Linked DNA regions of Homo sapiens. The protein of the gene in region 2 interacts with the protein of the main gene of each other region in a biochemical or structural test. Each region holds a gene or a part of one and is shown on either strand. Other genes may lie near its edges.

The links.
Region 1: the proteins of TG (region 2) and CRYM form a complex in vitro, tested with the Homo sapiens proteins (one study listed by BioGRID).

Annotation. Positions count from the first base shown.
Region 1 is NC_000016.10:21,275,136-21,282,745, forward strand, and holds the start of CRYM (ketimine reductase mu-crystallin), read right to left. Parts: upstream 3,156-7,610; 5' UTR 3,117-3,155; coding exon 2,947-3,116; intron 2,450-2,946; coding exon 2,296-2,449; intron 460-2,295; coding exon 397-459; intron 1-396. UniProt on the Homo sapiens protein: Catalyzes the NAD(P)H-dependent reduction of imine double bonds of a number of cyclic ketimine substrates, including sulfur-containing cyclic ketimines.
Region 2 is NC_000008.11:132,862,287-132,870,081, reverse strand, and holds the start of TG (thyroglobulin precursor), read right to left. Parts: upstream 3,125-7,795; 5' UTR 3,082-3,124; coding exon 3,015-3,081; intron 1,968-3,014; coding exon 1,859-1,967; intron 354-1,858; coding exon 256-353; intron 1-255. UniProt on the Homo sapiens protein: Acts as a substrate for the production of iodinated thyroid hormones thyroxine (T4) and triiodothyronine (T3).

The DNA of each region.
Region 1 (7,610 bases), on a different chromosome or scaffold from region 2:
TGGTACAGGGACAAGAAGCCAGTCCTGGAAGCCAGAGAGGTCAAGTATTAAATTCTTACTCTAGCACTTATTAGCTGTGTGATCCTGGGCAATTCACAGAAGCTCTCTGAGCCATATTCCTTGACCTGGAAGGTGGAGAGAATTTCTCATTTCGATTCTTCAAGACTGATGGGAAGATTGAGAATTATGCACATAAGGTACTTGAAATCTGGTCATGCACACTAATTGGTAGCTAATAATTTCGTGAATTACTGATATATCTGACATCTGGAGTTCCAGCTATGTCCAACAGGAAACCAAAATAAGTTCCCCACTTCTCCTTTAGTCTCTCAAGATTGAGACACCAGACCCCACTTGACAGCTCACCTTAATGGTACAGCCAGCCATTCATCTTACCTTGGTGGCAATGGCAGAAACTGCAGCTGTTCTCTTTGCAGTTATGACATTTCCATCCATGACCTTGGAGGAAAAGAGAGACAGTGAGCAAGGGGAACCCCTGTCCACTGCATAAATTAGAAGAAACAGTTCTAAAATATTAGCTTAGGAAGTTTTATAGCATCCTACAAACAGCATGGGTTTGGCGTCAGACCTGGATCCGATTCCTCCACTTACGAGATATGCAACTTTGAACAAACACTTTAATCTTTAAGCACTGGTTTCCTCACCTGTAAAAAAGATAATGCCAGCCATTCAGAGGGTTATTGTGAGGATTAAATGCACTGGCATATCTGGAAACATCTAGCACATGGTGAGCCCTCAAGAACTGCCCATTTTCTTTTCTTGCCCTAGGATTCTCAAAACACCAAATTAAGAAGGAACTAGAGAGAGAAGGTTGCCAATTGACATCTGGACAACGGCCATGAAACTCTTAGTGGCTCTCCGTTCCTGCTGCACATGTGGAAAGCTTCGTGAAGATGCTCAGATACCACCCTTAGATTAACCCAGTCTGTATCTCTTCCAGGAGTGAGACCCAGACAGCCCAGGTGATTCCGATACACAGCGAAGGTTGAAAATTATGCCTCGCTAGTAAAAACCATCCTCTGCACTCCTCTCCCTGTTATTCATCTCAGCTGATCATCAAAAAATAGGCATCATCAACCTCATTTTACAGATGAGGAAGTGAATCACGAAGTCACTGAGCAGATTCAGCTGTCATCTAGTTTCAAAGCCTTGGGTTCTACCCCCCTAGGGAACCGCTGTTGGCAGGTAGTATGAATGCCATCTCGGTTGGATGAGTGTAAGTTGGGGAAAGCTAGATATTCTCAAAGGAGTGTTAAACGGCCAGATTATTTGGCGATCCAGAAATTCAGGGGAAAAGGAGGGACATTGTAAGACCCAGCTTGGAGCGCACAGACCTTAAGAGTTAACTGTCACACCTGGGAGTGATTCTTGAGTCTTTCACTAACCAGATGTGTGACCTCAAGCAAAGTGACTCTACTAACCTGAGCCTCAAGGACCTCAACAGAAATTGGGGGGAAGGGGAGTTAATAAAAACACCCATAGAGGAATTTTGCAGAATTGAATGTGATCAGCGTCTCCTTCTTGGCACATAAGTGCCCAATATGTAGCAGTTAAAATGGCGGTGGTCTTAGAAGAGTCTGGACCTATGGACCGTGGACTTAGACTGAGCAGCTCTGAAGTCCAACCATGCTAATTGTTGGTTACATAAACCTCGGTAAGTTGAACATAGTTGCTCTGACTCGGTTTCCTCATCTATAAAGTGGGAGTAATCATATTACCCATATCATAGAATAGTTTTAAGTATTAAGAGGATTAATAAATGTGAAATGTTTAGAAAAGTGCCTGATGCATTATAAAAAGTACTCCATAAACACAAGCTACTGCTACCTTTTGAAACTATGATTAGATATTAAAACAGGTCACACCGTATACCCCTCTGAAGACTCCCAGGGATTATAGAACACCCCTTCTTTTCCATGTCGACAAGGATTCAGTAAGTAAGTCTTCCCTTGGCTAATGGGTTCATTCAAGCTGCGTATTTGGGGCAACTGAGTATAGGACAAGGACATATGCAAGAATGACAACAAGATTATTATTTCCACACTGTCACATGCTTGAGGCAGCAGTGGGCGCTGGTGCCGTGTTATGCATCCTCAGGCAGTCCTAGAAATAGATACATGGACACAGATAACCTTCACTGTTGCTGGTATCCAGTCACTTGCAGAGGGGCACGCGTAGTCACAATCAAGACTCCCCCTGCTGCGGAGAACTTACTTTTGAGCTTCAATCTGGGCCCAGGGGCCCCATTCCACCCCGGGACAGGAAGTTGCTCACCGCCAGCAGGGTGCCATTGCTGGGCTCAAAGAGTAGCACAGTAGCCTGGTGGGAAGGGACGACCGAGGTGATGCCGCGGTCCTCGTAGAAGGTGACCAACTTGGTGGTCAGTGCATCCTCTGCAGCACTGTAGGCGGGCATGACCCCCAGGTAGCTACAAGGAGAGAGGGAGCAGCTTCAGCCCCTTCCCATCAATGCTGGGGTCTCTTAGAAAGTATCCATATACTTTCCTTTTTCTTTCCTTCCTCACCACCCCACTGGCCCTCTTCCAGCCCCCGCATCCCTCTGCCCTTCCCTTAGACACTATGCACAGTATGTTCAGAAGTCTGGCTCTGGATCAGAAAACCTTTCCAGCTCTGCCACTTAGTAGCTGTGTAAGCTTAGGTAAGTCACTTAACCTCTCTGAGTCTCAGTTTTCCACCAATCAAATGGTGGTATCAATACCTCCCTAGGTGGAGAGTGTGCTGAAATAAACAAGGTAACACCTGTAAAACGCCCACTTAGCACACCGGGTAGCGCCTATTAAAAGTGGCAGCTGTTAGCAACGGTTAGGCAAGCCGTCTCTTCCCTTCTCCCACCCCTCCTCTTCCTGCTCCTCCTTTCCCCGCTTTCCAGTTTCTCCTGCCCCTGACCCCGACCCTCCTCACTCACCCCCTGTGCTTGGTCACCGGCACCACGGTGCGCACGGGCTGCATGACCCCTCCTTCGGGACCGCTGGAGAAGTTGGCCAGGGCCGTCTCTAGAGGCGGGATGAGGAGGCTGGAGCTGCGGAGGTGTTCCTCCACCTCGGCCGCGCTCAGGAACGCTGGTACCCGGCTCATCTCGCCACCTGTGCCTTCTAACCTCAGTCTCCGCACCGCGATCCACGTACCCTCGGCTGTGCCCTTTATGAGCGCGCCCGCTGCTCTGTGGAGCCGCCTGCTGGTCACAGCCCAGCCTCCGGGGGCGGAGCAACCCCGCCCCGCCCCGCCAGCCCTCTCCTCCCCCTTCGCCCACCTCGACCCCTAAGGGTGGGCGAGATGGGTCCCTTCCAGCAACGGATTCCCCAAGATGGACATCGCGGTGGCGTGCTGGGAGTCAATATTGTTTGGTCCACTTTCTCAGTTCCTGTAATCAGCTGTAGCCACATTCCTTGACTTTTGCTTCCTACATAACCCCTCCCTATTAACTCGCTTTTTGCTGCTGTCTAGGTCACCGTGCCTGGGAAAGAATGGACAGGGAAAACGCTAACGGGGCTCCTTTATTTATTAAATTACTGCCTACTGCTAGGAGATAAAAGGAGACGGAGGCTTATTTAATTTTTTTTTCCTTTTAATTCTGTCCCCGTCTAGAGTCTCTTATCCTAGTCTTCCTCCCCCCTGTACCCCCAGATGTCTGGCCTTTGATTGCTAAGAACGCACAGTTTTCTCACAGGCTAACTAACCTAACAAACCTTCGCCTTTAAAGGGGGGAAGTTTGCAGGGCAAGGTGTAATCTTTTCCATCTCACAAAAAGCCAAATTGCAGGATCTTTTCTTCCAGGAGTTTTTACCTGAGATGGGGAAATAAAATCGGAAAGGAATGATGTAAAGCTTAAGGCAATAAATCCTAGTCATCAAATCAGTGATAGGAAAAGTAAGTTAATTCAAAGAAAAGAGAGATGATTTTGACCTGGAGTGGTTAGATAAGGGCTTCATGAAAGAGTGGGGAGAAACCAAGGTCTGAAATAATAATAGTGACGACAACAATGATAACATCAGGTTATTGATCTTTACTATGTACCAGATACTGCACCATGCACTTTATGTATATTATCTCATTTAATTATACAACAACCTCTAAGGTAGGGAGGTGTTGTTATTAGTTTTACTGTCCATTGGAGGCTCTGAGAAGGGAAGAAATTTAGTTCAAGGTCATCCACCAAGTCAGCAGAGGAGCTGGCTTTGCCCATGGTTGGACTTCAGAATTATATTCCTAATCATTAAGCTACTTTGGCAGAAAGAGAGGAAGAGGGCATTACAGGCCAAGTAAAGCCCTGAGGTGGAAGGCATGTTGAATAGCTCTGGGAACAGTGAGTTGCCAGATGTGTTAGGCTGGAATAAGGTGCTGAGGTCTAGGAGCATCAGAAGATAAAACTGAGAACGATTCTTGGAGTCAGGCAGCTGAGAATGGTGATTCCTAGGAAAGAAATTACATGCTCCAAGAGAGTAAGCATTTAGAAAGATGGGTCTTCTGCCAATGCAAAGGATGGAACAGATGAGCGAGAGCAGAGCCTGGGAGAAGGTCAAGAGGCAGGACTGCTGAAGTTGTGCTTTGTGGTATTTTGGTTGGAAGCTACATAGGGCATTTTGTAGGAAATGGTCACATCATGATAAAAGACAGTGGATGAGTAAGTGTCAAAATCAGTACCAATGAAATGAGAAATTGTACATAATGTGTTTAGCAACAGTGCTTGGCACAGAGTAGCCATGTAATAAGTGAACACTGAGAGAGAAAGAGAGAGAGAGAGAAGACACTGGTGGTTGGGAAAAGCTGATTTCAATGACACAATTTTGTTTCTTCGGTTCACCATCCCTAGAAATTTATGCCCAGAGCCGCTGGGCTTATAGAAATGTTTCTGGCCCATCACGTGTGCTGTTAGCATTAATATTACATCACATTTATTGGGTTTAGAAAGCACAGACATATAGCCCTGGCATGATAGTTCACGCCTGTAATCCTAGCACTTTGGGAGGCCCAAGTGGGTGGATTACCTGAGGTGAGGAGTTCGAGACCAGCCTGGCCAACATGGTAAAATCTTCTCTCTACTAAAAATACAAAAATTAGCTGGGTGTGGTGGCGGGTGCCTGTAATCCCAGCTACCCAGGAGGCTGAGGCAGGAGAATTGCTGGAACCCGGGAGATGGAGGCTGCAATGAGCCAAGATTGCACCACTGCACTCCAGCCTGTGTGACACAGTAAGACTTTTTTGGCCCTTTGTTTTTGTGAATGTGAACTAAAAATAAAATCCTATGCCCCCCACCTACTGAATGAACCCCCTCTGGGCCAAGCAGACCCCAGAAAAACCTTAAAGACTTAGTTTCCAGCCATGATGGGATGGCAAATCAGATATGCCTCATTACATCCTCTCCCTTTTAGAGTTTAGACACAACTGAGCAGCCTTAATGTTAATACAGAGATCACAAGACTGACAGAACAGACTCTTTGTGGCAATACGATAACAAATTATAAACAGGATCTAAGGCCATGCCAGGAAGGGTTAAGTCACGCACCCTTACACTTAAAGAAAAAAGCTATGTTCTAACTGCCACAGAGTTTTTGTTTTCTCCAGCAGCTAAACAAGCACTGGCTTGAAGATAAGCAATATTTTTGTTTTTGTTTTCCCCAGCCCTGCTCAGAGAAGATAGGGAACATGGCTTGGGCACAGTGGCTCACACCTGTAATCCCAGCACTTTGGGAGGCCAAGGCGGGCGGATCATGTGAGGTCAGGAGTTTGAGACCAGCCTGGCCAACGTGATGAAACCCCATCTCTACAAAAAGTACAAAAATTAGCCAGGTGTGGTAGCATGTGCCTGTAATCCCAGCTACTCAGGAGGCTGAGGCAGGAGAATTGCTTGAACCAGGGAGGTGGAGGTTGCAGTGAGCCGAGATCGTGCCACTGCACTCCAGCCTGGACAACAGAGTGATTCTCTCTCTCTCTCACTCTCTCTCTCTCTCTCTCTCTCTCTGTATATATATATATACACAAACATATATGTATATACATATATACGTATCTATGTATCTATATAGATATGTATATGTATCTATGTATCTATATAGATATGTATATATGTGCATATATATATATATAAATTTTTTTTTTGAAACAAAGTCCCTCTCTGTCACCCAGACTGGAGTGCAGTGGCATGATCTCAAGTGATTCTCCTGCCTCAGCCTCTCAGGTAGCTGGGATTACAGGTGCATGCCACCACCCCCGGCTAATTTTTGTACTTTCAGTAGAGATGGGGTTTTGTCATGTTGGCCAGGCTGGTCTCGGTCTCGAACTCCTGACCTGAGATGATCCACCCGCCTTGGCCTCCCAAAGTGCTGGGATTACAGGCATGAGCCACCGTGCCCGGCTGAAGATATGCAATATTAAAACAATTACAACTCATCCAAATCACAGATATTGACTAACCGACCCCTTGTTCCACCAGCCATAACTACAGCTTGATTGGACAAGAGACTGATTTCAGTAACTTTCTCCTGATAAGACTACCGACTATAGGATGGTTCTGGCTGACTTACAGAGGTTGCACACTTGCATGCCTTCATGTCCTGAAAAGACCTTTTGACGTATCAGGCTGAATTGTAATACATTTAAATGCTGCAACCACCCCAAAATGAACATGAGTTGTATGTAACATGCATGTTTGTTAAATACACATGCATCAGGACCACTTTCATGAATATTCATAGCTTCTTCTCTCACCTGTTGAATATGTATATTTAGCCAACCTGTTGAGCATAAAGCTCCTACCCCAACCCTCCTCCTTCAAAGTGCCTGTCTCTGATCTTGGCCAAGGCATGTGATATGGTTTGGCTCCATGTCCACACCCAAATCTCTTCTTATAGCTCCCATAATTCCCACATCTTGTGGGAGGGACCCAGTGGGAGATGACTGAATCATGGAGGCGGGTCTTTCCCCTGCGGTTCTGATGATAGTGAATGAGTCTCACGAGATCTGATGGTTTTAAAAATGGGAGTTGCCCTGCACAAGCTCTCTCTTTGCTATTGCCCTCCATGTAAGATGTGACTTGTTCCTCCTTGCCTTCCACTATGATTGTGAGGCCTCCCCAGCCATGTGGAACTGTAAATCCAATAAGCCTCTTTCTTCTGTAAATTGCCCAGTCTCAGGCATGTGTTTATAGACAGCATGAAAACGGAATAATACAGCGTGCTTCCCAGCATAGGATCCCACCTTGCAGGCTGTAACCTCGTATAAGAAAGTCTCTTCTTGTCTAAATTTATAAATTGTGTGGTTTTTTTTTTAAAGTTAACAAGGAGAAAAAAAGCAAAACCAAATACTCATCAACTAAAAGAGATATGAAATAAGAAAGCCAGATATTTATTTGCTTCCATAGTAAATTCAGGAATTTAGCCCCGATTAAATAGAAATCTTATTTCTGACTCCCACATTACTAGAAAGTTTATTAATCTTCTTTAAGTCATGATTATAATAGTAATTTCATTATTTTAACAATGACAAAATAAGAAACCTCAATAATAGGAATTCACTCCAGTGAATCCTGTAGAAACAGGACAACTCTGCAAATCATCTCAAATCATCTTCCTG
Region 2 (7,795 bases):
ACCATTGTCTTCTCAGCATGTGGCTCATGGGAGGAACTGGGTAGATATTTATTGAACAAATGACTGGACTTTCACAGTGGCCCTGCAGGAAATAGGGCCTTCCATGGCTTGCAGGGATGATTCTTATTCACAGAGGAGAAGCCAGCAGCCCAGAGGGAGGACCTGCTCAGTCACCCACCCAAACCCAGTGCTCATTCCTGGAAGTGAGTTGTCCTAGCAGGGTCCCTCCAAGGGACGTCCCCCACTCCCACTTACAAGCCACAGGCCGTCCTGGCTGCCTGCTGCCCAGCACTTCACTGCCGTTGGCACCCACACACCAGCAGGAGCGGCCGTCGTTCTGGCACTGGACAGTCCTGAGGAGGAGACACAGACCAGGTGACCCTGGGATGGGCCCCCAAAGCCACATGCCGGCTCCCACTCAGGCTACTTTTCTTCTTCATTTCCATTCTTGCAAGTTTTGGTTCGTTTAAATTAGGGAGAGAGTGGAGTGGAGAAGGGTGGCTGACCTGGGAAAGGAAAGGCCCCACTTTTCCTGCCTGGCTAGCACCTGCTCTGCCTCCTGCCCCAGCCATTCATTCACCACCTGTCCAGCCTGCCAGCCCCAAAACAAGTGACCCACCCTGGAGTGCAGGGCTTCAGCCACATCCACCAAGTGTCCTCAGGCATTATGAGGCTGCAGAGGGTAAAGGCAGTGCCCACATTGTATGGATAGGGAGTGGGGGCTTGGGGGTGGGATGTTAGTGGGATCAGGGGCCAGCAGGGTATATTGGGAAGCACATGGGTGGGGTCAGGCCAGGCCATAGAGTTGACTCCCCAGAAATGATGACTGAACTGAGACCTGCAGGATGGTCAGAGGTATAAGAAGGTAAAAGATATTCCAGGTAAAGGGAACAGCATATGCAAAGCCTCCTGAAGAGAGGCCAGGTTTGAAACTGCAAGAGGCCAGAACAAGAGAGTTGGGAATGGGAATATAAATAAGGCTGGTGAAAGTGAGACTTCCTCCTTAACTCCTTCCTTGCTGTTCCAGAATTCCCAGTGATCTAAGCAGGGACTGCTCTAGCAGCATCTCTGCACACTCGTGGGAGGTTAGGCACATTAAGAGTGTACATAAGATAGCAGCAGGGAGGGAGGTTTCACAGACATTTCCCAGAACGCAGTTATATAAATGGAGTTCCCCTGATTCAACATGACTGGAATAGCACAAGGAAATTTCAATGCATGCACATTGCAAAGGATTCCTGTCTATTCTGCAGGGAAGAATTGTCTAGATTATTACCACACTCTCCACAGAGAGGGTCTCAGGCCCCAAGTCTGCATTAGGGCAGCTGGAGAAACCCCTTTCAGAGAGCAGCTCAATGTGGAGACAGCGACCCAGAAGCCCAGAGGCAGCCTAGAGAGCTAGTCCGGGCAGGGTCGGTGGCAGCTAAGGACTAGGAAGTCAAGGCAGCCTCTGCTTCCACCACCCCAGCTTCTCAAGAGGATACTTGGAGGAGGGAGAGGTCCCAAAGCACAGATCATTTGACACTCTCCTCAACCTGCCCCACTCCCCACACGTGCCGTTTATTCAAGCCATCACAGAAAAAGTGATGGCAAGAAGAGAAGGGAGGGCAGTGGGAGGATGAAGCATGGATTGGGGTTCACTTGGTCAGATTGTCCAGTGTTGAACAGCTTGGGGAACTGAAAGGCAGGCACCTCCAAATGACAGTGGAACTGAAAGGCAGGCACCTCCAAATGACAGTGGCCAAGCCTCACATGCACAAAGGAGTTGCAGGGCAGAGCTCAGGAAGAGGGGGGAAGGCACAAGATGCTTTTTATGGCATCTTGGACCTTGAGAGTTCGCTGCTGACATAAGCCTTACTGGAAGCTGCCATCCTCTGCACACTGGGGCACGTAGTCTGCTTGCTTCAGAAAGGCCGTTTCCCTCTGCAGCTCACAGGGACGAAGGGGCTGGGCATCCACCTGGTACTCTAGGAAAAGAAAAGTGGTTCATCAAAGAAGAGTGTGGACTGGGCTGCCAGGACAGAGACGGGCTCTCATAAGCACAGATGCTTTTCCAGGGTCATCATCATTACCTATGACAGCCTATTTTAAAATTTGGCAGCTAAGCACACTTTCTTACAAGTATGACATTAGCTCATTTAATGTGCAACATTCTCCTAAGAGGTGACAGGCAATATATCCTTGTCACTCATGAGGCACCAAGTCTCAGGCAGCGAAAGTCGTCTGCCCAAAGTCACGTAACTGGCAAGTGAAGGATCCCAAAATCAACGCTGGGACTACACGTTCCCCGCCCGCCCCCACCCTGCCGCAATTCCCATGAGGCTATTTGGAGTAAGTTAGAGAACCGTAAGGAAGTTCTTCTTGAATCTATCAAGCCATGCCCTGCAGATGTAACATGTTCCAGATAAACATTGAAATACCAATTAATTAATAATGTACATGACTTATTTTTCCATTGAGAACTCTTGTAACACATAGGGTCCTACCCAGAAATCACAACCGCATCATGAGGTGTGTGTTATTTGTTTACTTTTTAAATGAAAAAAAAAAAAAAAAAACAGAAGCTTGGCACTTTGCCCGAAGTCATATGGGTAAGTGGCTGAGCCAAAGACAGAACTTAGGGCTATTTCACTTCATAGGTAGATTTCTTTTTCTACTGCTTCTAAAATACCTGTTATGGATGACACAGACTTTGGAATAGCTAAGGGGATAAAAACCCAAGGTCAATGCCAAAAGTTTGCCAAAATGGTGGGGTGAGGAGGACCTAGAATTGAATTAGGAAGATCAACCACATTTCCCATTTCTGCTCCATCAATCACTAGCTCTGTGACCTCAAGTAATTCAGTTCGGCTCTCTAAATCTGCCTCTTCATCTGAAAAAAAAAAAGCAAATCACTGACATGTGGGAATTTGTGAAGATTAAATTAGATCGCACCTGTTCGAAGGCCCAGGGCAGAGCCTGGCTGACACTGGAGCTCCCTCCCCACCGCCTGGCTCCATGGCCTCAGAACTTACCGAAGATATTGGCCGACACCCAGCAGATGGAGGCCAGCAGGGTGAAGATCTCCAGGACCAGGGCCATTTTCCTGGCCCTTCCTGGGAGGAAGGAGGAGAAACCACTGCTTGCCCTAGGTCCCCTGGCCAGGGAGCTTTTATAGAGCTGCCGTTGGCACTTTCCTTCCCACCCCCAGGTCCTCAGTGAGGCAGTGCCCCATCCTGTTTTCTCTGCTGGTCAAAAGGAGCTCCCTCCACCTGTGTCTACTCCTCCTGAGGGCACTCGTGTGGCCAGTGGAGCATGAGGATCTTGTCTAAACTGTGGGGGAACAGAACGGGGTGGGGTGACTTCAAAATCCTTTTTTATGGGTAAAGACCAAAGCTCTGTATCTTTGGAGGGAACAGGCTCAAGCCCACAGTGAGGGAAAAGCAATCCTTTGTTCTTTCCTTCCCCACCCTACCCTTTCTCCTTCTCCTTCCTCCTTCCTTCTTTCCTTTCTTCCTTTCTTTCTTCTTTCCTTCCTTTCTCCCTTCTATCCTTCTTTCCTTTCATTCTTCCTTCTTTCTTTCCTTCCTTCCCTCTTTCTTTTCTTTCTTCCTTCTTTCCTTCCTTCCTTCTTTTCTTTCTTCTATTCTTTCTCTAACAACCTCTTAGAGCTCCACAGTAGCAGGCACCTAATCTAGACAATGAGGATATGGCAGAGAACAAAACAGGCAAAATCGTGCCCTCATTAATATAGACTGTGAAAACTTTGGTGAGGGAAGCAAAATACACACACACTCATATTCATATTTCTATTACTTTCCTCTCTTTCCTAGGACCTCAGACTTTGTCAACCAAAAGATAGCAGGAACTGTGTATTCCACAGAAAGCCTGTATGTCCATTTGGTTTCTCCTGGCAAACATGGCTTCCTTCCTTCAGTCCTGTTCCTGTGAGACCTGGAAAAACTCACCTCATCTCCCTGAGCCCCAGCCTCCTTCTCTGGAAAGCAAAGTTAAAAGGAGAATAATAATATGTCCCTATTTGTTAAGGTAGTTGTAAGAGAATAGACATTGAAGAGCACATGCTTATTAGACACTAGCAGTTATTATTATTATTATTGATTTTCTTATTTTGCAAAAGCATCATGCCAGGGAATGGCAAGTATTCAGAAGACCAATCCAGCCAGGTAAGGAGCTAGTGACAGATAGGGTCAGGAACTGGCAGGTAATGAGGGCAGGTTGCTGAGCCTGGCACCTGAGGAGAGATGGAGGGACCTGTGAGAATCTGGAGGATATGGTCCCGGGTAGAGTGAAGGGCAGGAGGACAAGCTGGAAAGTGGAAGAGACTCCAAACCCTGGGGAAAATAAAGGGGCCGATATAGCTGCCGTGCCGTAGACTGTACTACCTTCCACAAATAGGGTTGCTATGAATATTAAATGTGTTAAAATATGCAAAGTGCTTAAAACAGTATTTGACACATAATAAGTATCCAGTGTTAGCTACTGTACTAGTCTGCTATGGGTGTCATCACAAACTATCACAGACTGGGTGGCTTAAGTAACAGAAATTTATTTTCTCATAGTTCTGAAGGCTGGAAATCCAAGATCAAAGTGTCAGCACTGTTGGTTTCTTTGGAGACTCCTCTCCTGGGCTTGCAGATGGCCATCTCCTCCCTGTATCCTCACTTGGTCTTCCCTGTGTGTGTTTGTGTCTTAATATTTATTTCTTTTAAGTACACCAGTCATATTGGATTAGAGCCCATCCTTGTGACCTCATTGTGCACTTAATTACCTCTTTAAAGACCCTACCTTCAAATGCGGTCACATTCTGAGGTCCTGGTTTTAGGACTTCAGCATATGGATTTGGGGGGAGAACACAATTCAGTCCATAACAGCTACTGTCATCATTGTTGGGTTCCTGATATAAACTAGAGAAAGTAAAACACAACAGTCATTTGAAGTGTCAGGGTATGGGATTAAAAACAGGGGAGAACCCGTGCTCTGCCCGTCCTTCTTGGGGACCACACATGCCTGGAACTCCCACATCTCTCTCTAGCTCAGTCTCCAGCCAGACTTTTTTGAGCTCAGATCCACTCTGCCTGGACACCCTACAGGTATTTCAAATTCAACATATCCCAACCTGAACTCCTCAACCTTTCTCCTGACATCACCCCATTGGCTGTCTCTGTGATAGTAAATCCGAGCCCCATCCTAGGCTTCTCCCCTCAAGTCTTACCAGCCTCCAGGTCCTACCAGGCTGCTGCTCATTTCTACTTCCTTGGTCCTCCCCTCCTCTGCATCCTCACTCTTCCTGCCTCCGTCACATCCCTACAGCTCAGAACGAGCCAGCCAGAACAGCCTGCTGTACTGCTCCTCACCAGGGCTTCCCCACCAGCTGCAGGAACAGTCCTCTAAAATATGGCCATCCATGTCACTTTGTAGATTCTACAAAAAGAGTGTTTGGATCCTGGTGAATCAAAACACTGTTTCCATTCTGTGATATTAAACAGCACATCACAAGGCTGTTTTCACGGGTGGGGATGGAGACTCAGCCAACAGATGCTCAGGAGGTGCCGTGGCAGGAAGATCAATTCACCCTGGGGAGTGGGAGGACAACTTGGATTAAGACCTAGATGTTAGGTAAAGGTGAGCTGGGGAGTGTATTGGCATTTACTGGAAAAGGCAATACAAGAGGAAGAACTCACCTGCCTGACTCCCTGCTACCTCATTACATAGGCCAAGTTCACCCCAGGCTATGGAGAGCTGGCAGCATCCTTCTCTCTACAGCAATATAATAAGCACAGCATTGTGCAGCCCCTGGTCATTTCTCCATTTCTACATGTTCTAAAGCAGAAAAGTCTTAGAAAAAATTGAATGTGGTTAAAGATTTACCATAAACCTCACTCACCACTCTTCCCATTGCCCTAAAATGCATGCATAAAGCTTGCACAGGTTGGCCTGTGTGCTGAATCATTCTTGCTGGCCTGGCCCCTGAGAAGCAACCCACAGACCCATGCCAGAAGTGTCTCTGCTTCACTGGGTTTGGTGCTTTAGGAACTCTGGGCTCAGGGTTCATGAAGCAGGCCAAGATATCACTGGAATGAGGAGTACTATGAGAGAGGAATGGCAGGTCTGTGAGCTGACTCCACGTCAGACCCCACCTGGAGAAGCAGCAAGGTGTTAGGAGCCTGTGGGGGAGCACCCAGTAGTCCGAAATGCAGAGGCCGCCTTCAAAATCCATGCAAAGAGCTTCCCTCCATACGCAATAGCAGAGGTGCTTCTCTCCACTCAAGCAACAAAGCAGAAAGCTTCAAGAGAATCGAGGCAATGTGTCACTTCCACCACCATGAAACCCTCTTTCTCATAATGACTCAGCTACTGGTCCCTACTTTTACCTCTTCTCCACTGAGCTCTGAGAACAAACAGGCTTCCACAGCGACTCCACATGGCAATGTCCTAATCTTTCTTCACCAACTTGCTCCTTGCTCAGGCCTCCATCACTCTGGCAGGCTCTTCATCGCTGGCCCTGCCACCTCTCCCACTCTTCTTGGCCCAAAATACAACTGCACAACCTTCTCTTTCATCTCCTTCATTTTTTAATACTAAGGTGCTTTATATAATAGGTGCTTACTGAAAATTTAGGGGGAGATGGACAGTAATAGCAATATAGAGGAGGAAATGGCTTCAAATGGATCATCAGACACCACTGTTTCTGACATCCATCCATCAGCTGTCATGCACCACAGGAAATTGCTTCCCAGTCATCTCTCCTTTAGTCCAGCCTGCCACCATATTGCTGGATCCCTGCTACCACTTATGGACAGCTTCTCCCCATCCTCCAAATACCTAGGGACACAAAGCCACAACCCGTCTTCTCCTAGGTTCCTAGGGCAATAATAAACATTTCTGGTTCTTGATTTCTCATCCCAGAAAGACAGAGTGAAAAATACACTTTTCCCTGTACCTCTTACTAAGTATAGCTAAAACCATGAATATTATACATAAAACAAACATAAGAAGGCACTGAAAGTTAGAGAGAAAAAGACTGGCTATCAACCTCAGGATCAGAGGGACAAGATATATGGTAGGAGTTTCCTGGATTTTATTCGGCCTCCTATGTCTCAGATGAGATGTTGGAGGAGCTGGATACTCAGAAATGCCAGGGAGCACAGACAAAACAAGCCCCCAGAAAAGCCTCTTGAGCCAAAGTTCCAGGAAAGGGCGGCAGACTGGTAAGACAGAAAACTTTTAGATAACAACCTCTTTACTATATCAAACATCACAGAAAATCTGTCTCTAACCCCACCAGGCCAGCAAAGGTCAAGTGAGGAGCCCAGATTTCCACACTTGTCAATCTGTAAGGAGGTTCCCCAATCCCCCTGACCTTGTTTGTCAGAGGAGACAGAATGTGGAGCTGTGACTTTTACCCTGCTGGGCGGTAATGAGCCTCCTCTTTCTGCCATGTCAATGGAGTGTAGGGAGCCTGGACTTCTGCTCCCATCCAGTGGTAATAAGGTGGCACTCTCCCCCTTGACACTTAGGTGGTGTCAGAAGAGACCTAGTGAAGAATCAGGACCTTCATAATTGCCCAGCAGTAACAAGGCCACATGATGAGCAGTAAGGAGGCAACCCTGACCCTCCCAGGCAGGGTGGCATCAGCCGAGAGAAGAGACTGAATTGCCATCCCTGCCCAGCAGTACAGAAAAGCACAACAGCTTCCAAGTGTCAATGGAGTAAGAACTTGAACTTCCAGCCCCACCTGGCAGTAATGAAGTGGCATCTCCTGTTTCCCAATGCAGTGATGTCATAAGAGTTCTTC